2 linked regions of the Homo sapiens genome follow. The protein of the gene in region 1 binds, or shares a complex with, the protein of each later gene. Each region holds a gene or a part of one and is shown on either strand. Other genes may lie near its edges. The genes, in order: THOC1 and SARNP.

Evidence for each region.
Region 2: THOC1 (region 1) and SARNP share a complex: the UniProt entries of both Homo sapiens proteins name them as parts of the transcription/export (TREX) complex.

Annotation. Positions count from the first base shown.
Region 1 is NC_000018.10:264,948-272,235, reverse strand, and holds the start of THOC1 (THO complex subunit 1), read left to right. Parts: upstream 1-4,188; 5' UTR 4,189-4,216; coding exon 4,217-4,270; intron 4,271-6,705; coding exon 6,706-6,779; intron 6,780-6,872; coding exon 6,873-6,933; intron 6,934-7,288. UniProt on the Homo sapiens protein: Component of the THO subcomplex of the TREX complex which is thought to couple mRNA transcription, processing and nuclear export, and which specifically associates with spliced mRNA and not with unspliced pre-mRNA.
Region 2 is NC_000012.12:55,793,569-55,800,845, reverse strand, and holds part of SARNP (SAP domain-containing ribonucleoprotein), read left to right. Parts: intron 1-216; coding exon 217-284; intron 285-4,769; coding exon 4,770-4,821; intron 4,822-5,965; coding exon 5,966-6,039; intron 6,040-6,458; coding exon 6,459-6,487; intron 6,488-7,277. UniProt on the Homo sapiens protein: Binds both single-stranded and double-stranded DNA with higher affinity for the single-stranded form. Specifically binds to scaffold/matrix attachment region DNA. Also binds single-stranded RNA. Enhances RNA unwinding activity of DDX39A.

The sequences.
Region 1 (7,288 bases):
AAATTACTCTTTTTCCAAGAAAATTTAAGCTCTAGAGTATAAAGGGCCGTCCTTTTCCTTTTTTTTTTTGAGATAGAGTCACACTCTGTCACCCAGGCTAGAGTGCAGTAGCACGATCTCTGCTCACTGAAACCTCCACCTCCCACGTTCCAGCGCTTCTCCTGCCTCAGCCTTCTGGGTAGCTAGGATTACAGGCGCGGCCAACACACCCAGCTAATTTTTTGTATTTTTAGTAGAGATAGGGTTACACCATCTTGGTCAGGCTGGTCTCAAACTCCTGGCCTCAAGTGATCCACCCACCTTGGCCTCCCAAAGTGCTGGGATTACAGGTGTGACTCACTGTGCCCGGCCATTTTTTTCATTTTTATTCTTCTCAGTTCCATTCCTCTCACAATGCAGGAGTCTCATTCTTTTTATTCAACTTTGCCACTCAAACATCAGTTCCCTTTAAATAAATATAATTATTTCAATCCACTTAAACTACAAATGAGAGAAAGGGAGAGATGGCTGGGGCCCAAATGCTGAAAAAGGCAAACCTGCAATCCAACATCCTAATGTGGCCGACCAGTAAGCATGGAGCAAAAAGCTTCCTTCTGCCTAGACAATAGTCAGGATAAGAACTAGAAGAAAAGCAGATTAAACTGCATCCTTAGTCCTTTCCTCCCAGATCTTACCATTCCAATGGTAAACTGAACTCAAGTAAGGCCACACTAAGGAAAAAAAAGAGGAATGAAGATGTGAATGCCTAGAACTGATCTAAACCATCCATCCTAGATTCTCCCATGCAAGTTATTTCCTAACAGAGAGGCAGTCCTTCGTCCATCTTACTTCACCAGCTAGCATGAGGAAAAACAGGTGCTCAGTAAATATAAGTGAAAAGGTTACATGTTCCTGGATGTCTGCCCTCTGGATGTTATTACCCACTTAAAAACAAACAAACAAACAAACAAAAAAACAAAAAACAAAAAACTCTTTTTTTTTTTTTTTTTTTTTGAGATGGAGTTTTGCTCTTGTTGCCCAGGCTGGAGTGCAATGGCAGGATCTTGGCTCGCTGAAACCTCCGCCTCCCGGGTTCAAGCGATTCTCCTGACTCAGCCTCCCGAGTAGCTGGGATTACAGGTGCCTGCCACCATGCCTGGCTGATTTTTGTATTTTTAGTAGAGATGGGGTTTCACCATATTGGCCAGGCTGGTCTCAAACTCCCGACCTCAGGTGATCCAGCTGGCTCGGCCTCCCAAAGTAGTGGGATTACAGGCGTGAGCCACCGCACCGGGCCTATGTTTTGTTATTAATGACACTATGGTCCTCGCCCTTATCCAATTGTAAGGAAATAATTTCTGAAACATTGAATAGGCCCATGGTAAAGATTCAAGAGTTAAGACTTAAGAAAAATACAGGCTTTGGGATGACAGCTAGGCTCAAATTCCAAACTTAGCTTTCTCTAGCCATGTGACTTACAGCCAATGAGGCTGTATACTCATTAATATATAACTAAGTAAAAAATTGTTGTAAGGACTAGAAGCAATATAAGAAAAGTGCCAGGTCAGGCACAGTGGCTCATGCCTGTAATCCCAGCACTTTGGGAGGCCGAGGCAGGACCACTTGAGCCCAGGAATTCAAGACCAGCCTAGGCAACATAGCAAAACCCTGTCTTACAAAAATAAAAAAATTAGCTGAGCTTGGTGGCACATGCCTCTAGTCCCAGCTACTTGGGAAATGGAGGCAGGAGGATCATTTGAGCCCAGGAGTTTGAGGATACAGTCAGCTATGATCAAACCACTACACTCCAGTCTGGATGACAGAATGAGACCCTGTCTCTTAAGAAAAGAAAAAAATGTACTTGCCTCTGAGGTCTTAGTTGTGTTCCAGATGGTTAATAGTCATCTGTAATATGATAATCCTATTACAACAATTAGTATCAGATAAACAAAGTATAATTCTGAATTAAATCATTTTTATTTTGCCAATTTGTAAATTTAATGTATACAACCAAACCTGAATGATCTTGCTGATTCTTAAAAAGCCTGTAACATTTCAGGTAGTCATTATTGTTCACAATTCCCACTTAGGAGTAAGATTCTGCAGTTATCTTTTCCTTAGCTTCCTGTATTCTTATTGTGCATGTTAACTAAAAAATCATAAGATCTATAGATTTAGAAAAGGAGAGACTTTGTTTCTTATAAGGAGTTACAGCCTGCAAGGTGGCCATTCTGCAGGCTGGGAAGCATGCCTCCAGCCAAGACCACATACAGACACTTCAGAGGAGGAGTTGGAGTAGGAACTTTATGCTTAACTGGTTGGCTAAACATACATATTCAACAAGTTAGAGGAGCGGCTATGAATATTCATGAAAGTGGTCTTGACACATGCATATTAAACAAATATGCATGTTTAACAGACAATCCATGTTCACTTTGGGGTGGAGACTTAACATTTAAATGTATTTACAGTTTGGTCCTATACATCAAAATATCTTTTCAGGAAGTTACGTAAGCATGCAATCACTACAAATTGGCCAGAACAAGTCCATGGTCAGTGACCTTCTTATCAGGAGAAAGTAACTGAAATCAATAAAAGCTGTAGTTACGGCTGGTGGGAGAGGGTTGTTAGTGTCTGGTGGTCGATGAACTGCAAATTGTTTTAATACTGTGAGGCCAGCGCTTGTTTAGCTGCTAAAGAAAAACCTTGAAGCATAGTGAGAACATAGTTTATTTTTCAAGCGTAGGGATGCATGACTTTTAACCCTTGCTTGGCATGGGCTTAGGTCCTGTTTATACTTTGGTATCTTATTGCCATGGAGTCAATTCCGTCAGTCCTATCATCTCCGTTTTTTTTTTTGAAACAGAGTTTCACTCTTGTCGCCCAGGCTGGAGTGCAATGGCACGATCTCCGCTCACTGCAACCTCCGCCTGCCGGGTTCAAACCATTCTCCTGCCTCGGCCTCCTGAGTAGCTGGGATTACAGGTGCGTGCCACCACGCCCGGCTAATTTTTGTATTTTTAGTAGAGACAGCGTTTCACCATGTTTGCCATACCTCAGGTGATCCACTCCTGACCTCAGGTGACCCACCTGCTTCGGCGTCCCAAAGTGCTGGGATTACAGGCGTAAGCCACCGCGCCTGGCCTCTATTTTAACTTTATGGCCAGTCAGCTATCTCCTCTAAATCACAAAAGGGAGAGGGTATAACCAGGTCCGTCTGACCTCCCATCCCGTTATGACTGGGAACTCAGTTGTTAAGATTTTGCTGGTGTCCCCTTGGCCTCACGGGGGTCTGTTCAGTTGTTGGGGGGCTTAGGATTTTAAATTTACAGACTTCGAAGAAGGGAACAAGATACACGTGTGAGGGAATAAGAGGAAGTTACCCGAGTCTGAGTCAGTGCTTCCTTCTCCACCGTGTAACTCCAACTTAGAGTTACTGCCACTCGGCTTCTATCGGCCACGTCTCTCCTGGGAAGGCAGGCAAGGGACGAAATGGAGGGAGACAAGGTTTTCGCTAGGGAAGCCTCGGCCCAGGACGCAGCGCCACCCGTTTTCCAATCAGCGCCGGGCACTGCATTCCTCCTAGGTCTCTTTCTTTCAGTAGAGACCTTTTAATAATAAATACTACTTACATTGCTTTACAGTTCACACTTGCGGTCATTATTTCAGTGGAGCTTTTCAACAGCTCTGTGAGACAGGTATTATTTCTATTTCGGAGCAGAGAGAACAGCGCCCTTGAGCCACAGGGCTCATACATCCGGAGCCTATCACCACTCCGCATCTTAAGCTCCCGGGATGACCGCGGACTGGCGGCCCAGGACCACTGCTCCAGCTGTTTCCCCAGGTAATCCACCTGCCTTGGGTTACCTTTTAGCGCGGCCCAGTTAGCCGCAACCAGCCACCATTTACCCGCTTTCCCCAAACCAGGAAAACCACAGAAACGCATGTGCGCGGCCAGTCTCTTCCACGCCCGGGAACGCAGAGCTTACAGACCAAGGCCGCCCAAGTCCCCTCACCCCAAAGGCTACCCAAGAACCCCGAGTAGGCTGTTTGGCTGACTCAGGCGCCCAACGCCCACCCGAACTGAGTCGCTAGGGAAACTCCCAACTGCCAGCTCGCCCGACCGGTGTTCACAGGCCACTCTAGCCGGGCTCAGAGAGACCGCAGTCTCGTTGCTCCTGGCTTGACGTCATCGGCAGGCGCCGCAGCGCAGTGGCGGGCACGCGCAGCCGAGAAGATGTCTCCGACGCCGCCGCTCTTCAGTTTGCCCGAAGCGCGGACGCGGTTTACGGTGAGCTGTAGAGGGGAGGGTGCAGGCCTGACCCGGCGCTATGCTTTGTCCTCTTCTCCCTGAAATTACTCGAATTTTGCCCTGGGGTAAAGTGAGACAGAGGTGTGTCCGCCTCAGCGTCCGCTCCGGGCCCCGTCGGAGGTTGAGGGGTAGGGAAAGACGCACTACCCGCCTCTTCTTTGTGGGCTGGGCCGTCCGCCTCCGCCCACCCTCCAGCGGGTCCCCGGACTGCGTGCTGGGCGCCTCGGCTCCCCGCTTGGAGTGCCCACCTGCAGACTACTGCTGGTTGGGTCCATCCTCTCAGCTCGTTTAGTGGGGCAGGTGTCTCGAGAAGGGGAAGGGGAGCTGCTGAAGGGGGAGGGTGGGAGTGGTTTCAGTCCAAAGACCTGGCTCCCGCCCTAGCCTTCTGAGCTACCAAGTGCTTGTTCCCGCCGTCTCTTCACCACCCCTTAACCCACCGTGTCTAACTCCTAAGCGATCGATGAGATCCTAAGCGGGAAAAGGCAGATAGATCACCTTGGGAAGGGTAACCAGATGCTATTTTATTCTTGCTCAATGTGGAAGGGTGGTTTTGAGCATTTGGGAAACACTTGACAGATCACTTTCTCATTTAACTATTAGAGTAACACTGTGAAGTAGGCTAAGTTGGTTATTCCTGGTACATGAGGTAGAAGCTGACACCCCCCAAAAAGTTGTGACTTCAGTGGTTTTTCTGACTTTAGACACTCTGTTCTTTTTATGTTGCTCGTCACAGCAACGTAAGTATGAAGAACACTTTTAAGTTGCCTGACTCTATTCGTCTCTAGCATTTGCACCAACATTTCTCAGATATTCGGCTGTGTTTTGGTAGTTATAGGGATGCCAGGATGAAAATTGTGTGAAAGAAAAATTCATCCTTTGTAGTAAGTAGTTTTCTTGTTTGCAGGGTTATATATATATATATATACATATATATACGTATACGTATAATATATATATACACACACACACAGTGTGAGGTTTTTTTTAAATGGATTATATTTTGTGTATGTCATCATAATCATTTTCTTTGTGTGCGTTTTGCTGCAATCTCTGGTGCTTTGAAAGCCTGCTAAGAGTAACTGTTAGGACTATCCAAGATCATATTGGCGGCCGGGCGCAGTGGCTCACGCCTGTAAATGCAGTACTTCGGGAGGCCGAGGCGGGCGGATCACCTGAGGTCAAGAGTTCAAGGCCAGCCTGGCCAACATGGCAAAGCCCCGTCTCTACTAAAAATACGAAAATTAGCCAGGCGTGGTGGTGGGCGCTGTAATCCCATCTACTTGGGAGGCTGAGGCAGGAGAATCGCTTGAACCCGGACAGCGGAGGTTGCAGTGAGCCAAGATCATGCCAGTGCACAACACCTGGGCAACAGAGGGAGACTCCATCTCAAAAAAAAAAAAAAAAATCATACTAGCCCTGAAAAGGACCATGAAATTGGAGATCATCTAGTTCAGTGTTTCTCAAGCTTCTTGTGAAATGCAGATTCTTGTTCAGTAAGTGTGGAAGGGAGCCTGAGATTTTGCATTTCTACCAGCTTCCTAGGTGATGCCACTGTAGCTGCTGCTGGTAGTAAAAATCTACAAAAACCCTCTTATTTAACTGGTGACGAAAATGAAGCACAAAGAGATAAAGGAACAGGCCCCAAATTACTCAGCCTGTTAGTGGCAGAGCAAGGAATGGACACATTTAGGATAGATCTAATTCCTGTGAGGTAATAAGATGACTTTCTAAGTGTATGTGAGTGTTCATAGAATGAATGCCTTTTGCAATATTTTTGTCTTTAAGTTATGATTACTTTAAAACAATCTACAGATTGTCAGCATGGTTTTATTGAGTGCTACGTGTCAGGGACTGAACAAGATACCTCCAGGAGGCGAGACCTGACATGGGTGTGGGAGAATGGATAGAATTTGGATGAGCAGGTAGGAAGAGCAACATGAATGTGTGAATACAGTAGAATGAGTTTGATATAAAGTGATGAAAAATGGCTAGACTTTAGTGCAAAGTATGTGTTAGGGAGTATTGGGAATTAAGTTTGGGTAAATTGGGATAACATTATCAAGGACCTTGAGGGATCTATGAAGCTTCAAAACTAAAACGGGCAAATAAGGAGCCATATGGAGATTTTTTTTTTTTGTAAGCACAATACTCATGAATGTGATATTTAAAGAGACAGAAATATCACCTAGAATGAAAAAGTCCAGCAAGGAAGCTCTTGCCAGATTTAAAGTGATGAGGATCCGTATCATGAAGTAGCATTGGAATAAGGATTACTGAGAGAATGACTGATAGGTAATTTTTCCCAGGTATAAGCATTTTTTAGTTAGTAAGATACACTATCAATGAACGATATATTTTTCAGCAAATAATAAGCAAAATCTTTACAATTATTTGCCATTTTAATTTTTTTTTAGAAGTCTACCAGAGAGGCCTTGAACAACAAAAACATCAAGCCATTGTTAAGTACCTTCAGCCAGGTACCTGGCAGGTAAGGCATTGATATCTATGAAAAATACTTGCCTCAATCTTTATACATACCCTGAGCTGTTTGAAAAATGAGGATGTCTTTTGTTTTTAATAGTGAAAATGAAAAAAAATGTACCCTTGACCAAGCTTTCAGAGGTATTCTAGAAGAAGAAATTGTAAGTATGTTTTTCCATTGTTAAAATTTTACTGACAAATTAATAAACCATGTTATTTAAAAATTGCTTTTTTTCTTAGAATGGATATTTAAACATCTTTTTTTAGAGTAACCTTTCTGCTTTGTAAAAGTTGACTTGATGACTATACGATTTCTCTAAGGATTTTGATAGCACAGGTACATTTTAAGGGTTTGGTTTAATAAATGACAAGAGCCCTCTCCAAGTGAGATAAGAAAAGTTGACATGAGGTCTTAGGAAGAACTAGAGGTGAAGGTGGGCTCTCTCACTTTCCTGTATAAGCAGTGATACATCCTGTAGTGGCGCAAAAGGTCTAGTCCAAGAATATTTAGCTTAG
Region 2 (7,277 bases), on another chromosome or scaffold:
GATAGAGTAAGGTTAGTCTCTGGTAATGTGCCACTGCTTTGGCCACATTGCTTTAACATCAGTCATTGGAGGACTTAGATGTAAATTTATTAGGGGAGCATAAGATGGGTATGAAGGTTCTGAGAGACTGGTTTATTTTGGAGTTCTGATGTTCTTCTTTTGATAGATATTTATTCTTTAGATTTATGTTAACCACCTTGTTTCATTTGGTTTTAGGAAGAAGAAACAAAGCCCATTGAGCTCCCTGTCAAAGAGGAAGAACCCCCTGAAAAAACTGTTGATGTGTAATTATCCCTTTTTTATAATCTGAGTACAGAGCAGGCAGCTCTTTTCTTAATGTATTTAATGTTTAACTTTGTTTACCTCTTACATGTTCCCATTGGCCTTTTCCTTTCTGATTAGGTCATTTTTTTGTTTTTTAGAAGGGACTACTTCAAAGTACTTGGTCCCAGTGAAGTAAAGCAAATTGTCTCTGAGTTATGTAATAGGTAATGAGGACCAGGTGACTTCAAGACCAGACATAGTTTAATTCTCCTAGCCTTTGTTGTTCTTTTGTAGGGTCACCATAATAGATTATTCTGTTACTCTATAGAGAATCTGTACAATTCTGTATGCAGTGTAAAACTGTGTAAACTCTGTTAACTTTTTTTTTTTTGAGACAGGATCTCACTCTGTTGCCCAGACTGGAGTGCAGTGGCGTGATCTTGGCTCACCGTAACTTCTGCTTCCCAGGCTCAAGCAATTCTCCTGCCTCAGCCTCCCGAGTAGCTGGGATTATAGGTGTGTGCCACTACTGCCCGACTGATTTTTGTATTTTTAGTAGAGACAGGGTTTTACCATGTTGGCCAGGCTGGTTTTGAACTCCTGACCTCAAATGATCCGTCTGCCTTGGCGTCCCAAAGTGCTGGGATTACAGGTGTGAGCCACCGTGCCCGGCCCATTCTGTTAACTGTTCATAAGAGTTTTGCACTTTTCTGGAAAAGTGTAAAACTGAGGCCAGGCACGGTGGCACACACTTGTAATCCCAGCACTTTGGGAGGCCGAGGTGGGTGGATTACGAGGTCAGGAGTTCAAGACCAGCCTGGCCAAGATGGTGAAACCCTGTCTCTTCTAAAAATACAAAAATTAGTTGGGCGTGGTGGAGGGCACCTGTAATTCCAGCTACTTGGGAGGCTGAGGCAGGAGAATTGCTTGAACCTGGGAGGTGGAGGTTGCAGTGAGCCGAGACTGTGGCACTGCACTCCAGCCTGGGAGCCACAGCTGTCTCGGGAAAAAAAAAAAAAAAAGTGTGACACTCTATATAAAGGAGTTTTGTAAGGGAGGAGGGTGTTGGGTAGAGGTTATGTTTCTGAAGTAGCACTCTGTTCTCTCTTGCTTTCTGATTTACAGTGGAGGATGGGAGGACAAAGTGCTAGAATGGAAAGTAGATCTTGATTTGTTTAAACTGTTCCACAAGGGTGATCCTAAACATCTTTAATTTGGGGCTTTTTCCACAAATGTCTGGCCATTTTGTACTATAGTACATTAAGAGCCGTTGAGTCCTAAACTTTGAACATTTTTGTTCCTCATAGTTGTGTTAGTGCATTTAATTATAAAAGGCAGTGTATTTACAAGTAAAAAGTCAGTACATAGTGGAGTATATCAATTAAGAATTAAGTACTCTTTGTATCCATTCTCAGATCTGACTTTACTGAGGTTTTTAGAACAGTACATACTTTTGGAAGATTTTATATATGGGGTCTGTACATGTGTATATGTATGTATGTGTATATATAGATACACGTATACACACACTGTGCACACTTGATTTTTTTTCACATCTGGAAATTTTTTATATCATCATTTTCTTATGTAAGTGTTAGTTATATGCTAGGCATTGTTCTTAAGAGTTATATGCTAGGCATTGTTCTGAATGTTTTACATGTACTGTCATTTTATCCTCAGTAGACCCTGTAAAGTCAGGATAATTATCCTAGGAAGTGGTCTCTTTTTGTTTAGCTTATTATGGGAAATTACAAGTATATACAAAAGTTCGACTAGTGTAATAGACTCTCATCTACCTATCACCCAGATTTACTAGTTATCAACTTAGAACCTTGTTCTTTCTAGCATTTAATAGTATTGCATTCTATGGATAAACAGTAATTTATTTCACCAGTCTTCTGTTGATGGACATTTAGATTATTCATTAAAAAAAAATGTAGTTCTGCATGTCCTTTTCTAATTATTTATACTCACAAGTATACCCACAGGGTAAATTCCTAGCAGTGGATTTGCTGCATCACAGAGGATGTACATTTAACATCTTGATAGATTTTTGTCAAATATCCCTTTATTTATTTATTTTTGAGACAGGGACTCACTCCGTTGTCCAGGCTGGAGTGCAGTGGCACAATCTTGGCTCACTGCAACCTCCGTTTCCCGGCTCAAGCAGTCCTCCAGCTTCAGCCTCCTGAGTAGCTGGAACTACAGGCACGAGCCACTACACCCAGCTCTTTTTTTGTATTTTTTGTAGAGATGGGGTTTCGCCGTGTTTGCCAGGCTGGTCTCAAACTCTTGAGCTCAAAGCGATCCACCTGCCTTGGCCTCCCAAAGTGCTGGGATTACAGGTGTGAGCCAGTAATCACCTGCCTATCAAATACTACTTTCCAGCCTATCAAATACTACTTTCTAAAGCCATTTAGTTATCTTTCCATCATAAGATGTTTATAATTAGATATAGTGCCTTGAAAAAATGACTTTGTGAGATAGCTTTAAAATAGAAATGTTATGGGGATTTCTGGAACAAGAAAGAAGATCAAGTGAATACCATGATAATTGGCTTCTGTGGGTTAAAAAATAGAGGTTCGAAAGTTTGAAGTTCATTATTCATAGAATATTTAAAATGTGCATTCTGTTCAGGGGGCTTTAATTCTATTAATGAATTTTGAAACAAGGAAATTGAAGTGGGTGGGGTGATCGTTTTTGATTTTTAGAGGATAGTTGTGGTTAGACTGAAGTATGTACAAAAAGATTCTGGGTCTCTGTATTTCAGGGAATGTTGTTTATGTGATTGGGTAGGAGAGAAATTTCTCAGTGAAGAGTGGAAATTTCCCATGCATCCCAGAATTCGATGTTTATTTATTGCGCTTGAGTTTAGTTGCCTAAGGGAATTGTAATAGAATGGAAGGAAACTTCCCGTCTGGGGTTCCCTTTCTGCCATGATGTGCACTGCATTGACTGTGCTTCAGAATGGTAATGGGGAGGAAGTCATTACACTGGGGTTGATGGAGAGTACTACTTTCTTGATGGCATTGGATTTCAAGTAAAACATTAAACTTTAGCCTTTTGTGCCTAAATTATAAGACAAGGTTAGGGAAGGATGGCAAGGAAATGGGAAGCGTTTAGAAATTTCTTTAAACGTCAGAATAGCCAGGGCTAGTTTAGATTCCTTGACTATTTAAAAGGAGATCCCCTTCTTCATGTTTGGCCTGAAGTTCTCCAAAAATATACCTGTTTCTAGTTTGATTCCCAACCCCCAACCAGCTAAAGCGGTTACATATCGTAGGACTTCGTTATAGTCAGCAGGGGGCACCCATTGCTTGTCTTCAGTCCAGGGATTTCCAATAAAAGGGTGGAAGAGAGTAAGTTCTTATTCCAGAATTGCTTCCTCTGAAAATGTCATTAAACCATTACTACCTTTCAGGGCATCAAATGGGAAAAGTGTTCAGGATATTGGAACAAAAGCTGCCCATGTCTCTAAATGAGGGACCTTAATGAGACTGGTTATGACCCACAGTTTTATGGGAGTTGTTTGGTGGAGGGTTAATGCCCTTCCATTTATCGTGGGTACTTCCGAACTTTGTCTCCCGCCCCTGTGGTCCCCCCTCTTTTGTTTCCTCTTAAACCTTTGACCACTAGCTTACCATGTTTTCCTAATTCAAACTCCCCTTAGACTTTTTTCTTCCTACCTTCTTTGGCATTTTTATTTGTTTCACTTTGACTGTTCCAGCTAGAGCTACATTCCCCATGGGAGAAATAAGGGATTTTTAAAAGAAGGAAACCAGACCTTGTAGAGTACTTATTAATTGTTGTGATGAACATTGGGAGGTGGTACTTAAAGGAGGATTGGAGGGTTACTCATTAGTTCAAAAGTAAATTAAAGGCTGGGCTCGGTGGCTGATGCCTGTAATCCCAGTACTTTGGGAGGCCGAGGTGGGTGGATCACTTGAGGCCAGGAGTTCGTGACTAGCCTGGCCAACATGGTGAAACCCTATCTCTACTAAAAATACAAAAATTAGCTCGGCGTGGTGGCAGGTGCCTGTAATTCCAGCTACTCAGGAGGTTGAGGCAGGAGAATCTCTTGAACCCAGGAGGTGGAGGTTGCAGTGAGCTGAGATCGTGCCATTGCACTCCAGCCTGGGCGACAAGAGCAAAACTCCGTCTCAGAAAAATAAAAGTAAATTGAAAAGTTCCTAAAAGCAAATGAGATGGTTTCTGGTGTCCTTTGAGTGTTTCCCTTCAGCCCAGTATATTTAACCAGACTTCTTTCCTTATTTCTTTATTATACTTTAGCTAAAGAAGCTTAGTTTGTTATTTGAACTCTTTCCTCTCAATAGATGACAGTTAAAGGAACCAAAGCTCTAGTGGACTTCATGTTTCTTTGGCTTAGGGGGTGGCAGAGAGATAATAGGGCAGAGAATGGTGACTCAGGTGAATTCTTACACATTTCTGAGGTTGTGGTTTAGAATATCAGTTTTCTCATTTTAAAAAATCTCTTTCTTTTCTAGGGCAGCAGAGAAGAAAGTGGTGAAAATTACATCTGAAATACCACAGACTGAGGTAGGTATTCTGCTCCCTAGTAGAACAGTCTCTACATTTCTCTCTCCCTCTTACCCTTTATTATATCTGCATCATCCTCTAAAATTTATTCACAGGCAGAAAATCAGTATTGGCAGATTTTGGTGTTGATACGTTTCACTGCCAGCTACTCTTTGGAAAATATTTGGCTGGCGTAGGGGTAGTCATTCTTGAAGTTGTAGTCTTTTTATATGTAATATTATGGTCTTAACAGTGACTCTCTTTGAGATGTTTTCAAACCTAGGATTAGATTTAGGAGGATTGTACCTTGAAAATGTATTGGTAGATGTGACTCTTATGTTGCTACTGGCCAGTAGCTGAGATTGAAATTTCTCTGGTTTCTGTGGTGCAGGACTGTGAAACCAGGTTCCATTTGAGATCTTGTGTTCAGTATCATACTTGCAAAGTAGAGAATTATTAAACTCTTTTAGAATGGCATAAAACAATGCTGCCTCATTTCTAACTGAAAGAATACCATTGGTGTTGGAACCAAGCTATTCCTTTGATCACTTTTCAAAGGTCAGCCAAACATAGCTTTTGACTTCTTGGCTTCATGCATAATGTAGGTTTTACTTTATTTCTCCCTTTTGTTTTTGAGGGCATCTAGTAATAGTCTTTTTTTGTTTGCTTTGTGGGAAGGGCCGTTAAGTCCTAGCATGGACACAACCTGATATCTTCTAGGATTGTCAGTATTTTCAGTTTAGACCCTAAGAAATTACTTCTGATGTTTTTAAGATACCTACCTTTGGCTGGGCCAGGTGGCTCACGCTTGTAATCCCAGCAGTTTAGGAGGCTGAGGTGGGCAGTTCACTTGAGGCCAGGAGTTCAATATCAGCCTGGCCATCATGGTGAAATCTCATTTCTACTAAAAGCACAAAAATTAGCTGGGCACAGTGGCACAGTCCTGTAATCCCAGCTACTCAGGAGGCTGAGCCACGAGAATCGCTCGAACCCAGGAGGCTGAGGTTGCAGTGAGCCGAGATCATGCCACTGCACTCCAGGCTGGGGGACAGAGTGAGACTCTTTTTTTTTTTTTTTTTTTTTTTTTTAAAGATACCTACCTCTGACTGACTTTCTTAAACCATAAATTGACTTTTTTTTCTCCCTTTTGTCTATTTTTACTTAGAGAATGCAGAAGAGGGCTGAACGATTCAATGTACCTGTGAGCTTGGAGAGTAAGAAAGCTGCTCGGGCAGCTAGGTGAGTGTCCCCAGCCTTTTGGGCCTCTGATAGGGGTGTTGTAAAGATGAAGATGTGTGATCCTAGCTTTTAGGTATAATTGTTGATTTTAAGTAGAATAGAGGCTTGCTGAAGGATATGAACACTTTTTTGACCCTATTCAGAACATGTCTACTGATTTGGTTATAGTAGCTATAAATTGAGCTTTATTGAGAAGGGTTTTTGTAACAGTTAAAGCCAGGAACTGACTACTACTAATTCTGATAAGGCTTCCTTTTAGCTTAATTTCTGAACCTCTTTCATGGGGTTGTTAGAATTAGCTAATGATTGCAAGGCTTGAGATCACAAGCAAGAAGTGTCATATGTATACTTGACACGGAGACAGACAAACCAGGAGTGTGAACAGCTTCCTAAAATTTAGTTTGTTTTTCCTTCTTCAGGTTTGGGATTTCTTCAGTTCCAACAAAAGGTAAGAGTACAGAGATACTTCTGAGAAAGTTACCTTTTTATTCTTTCTTTTCTGGTATAACAGGTTTTATTTCTCCAAAATAAGGTAAATTTGCTAGCTGTAGAAACTCTTTAAGAGATTGTAACATTCATCTCCTGCTTTAGGTAAAATTATACTTAGGCCTTCCTGGGCAATTAAGAGAGATACTGAATGTTATGAGAGGATAGGAAGTGCCAACATTTGTCTGTCTTTTCTTGAACATCTTCAAAGAAGTTTCTCTAGTACTTTGCTTACTTATTCTGGGGTCTCAACTGCATAAAATTATTGCATACTATCTAGTGTTATACTGGCTATTATAAGTGATAAAAGGGAAAAGAATATCTTCTACCTTAACAGTTTTACTTCTAGGAACGTATAAGGAAATAGTCTTGAATGTGCATAAAGACTTAGCCTCAGGGATTATCACAGCATTATTTATAGTGATCAATAACTGGAAACAACCAACTGTACAACAGAGAATTAGTTATTAAATGTGTGCCATGGTATAGCAGACTACTGTGCTGAAATAATATTGAAAGATATTTATCAGAGATATTAATGAAAAAAGTTACAAAATTATATTAACAGTACGTTCCCATTTTAGTCATGTAAGAGTGCATGTATAGATAGGAAAAAAGCTTGGAAGGATACATAGTAGACACTTCAGCAAGGTTTGAACTGCACAGGTCCACTTATACTTGGATTTTTTTTTTTTTCAATAAATACAGTTTGCTGTCTGTATCTGAGGGTTCACCATAACCAAATGCGGTTC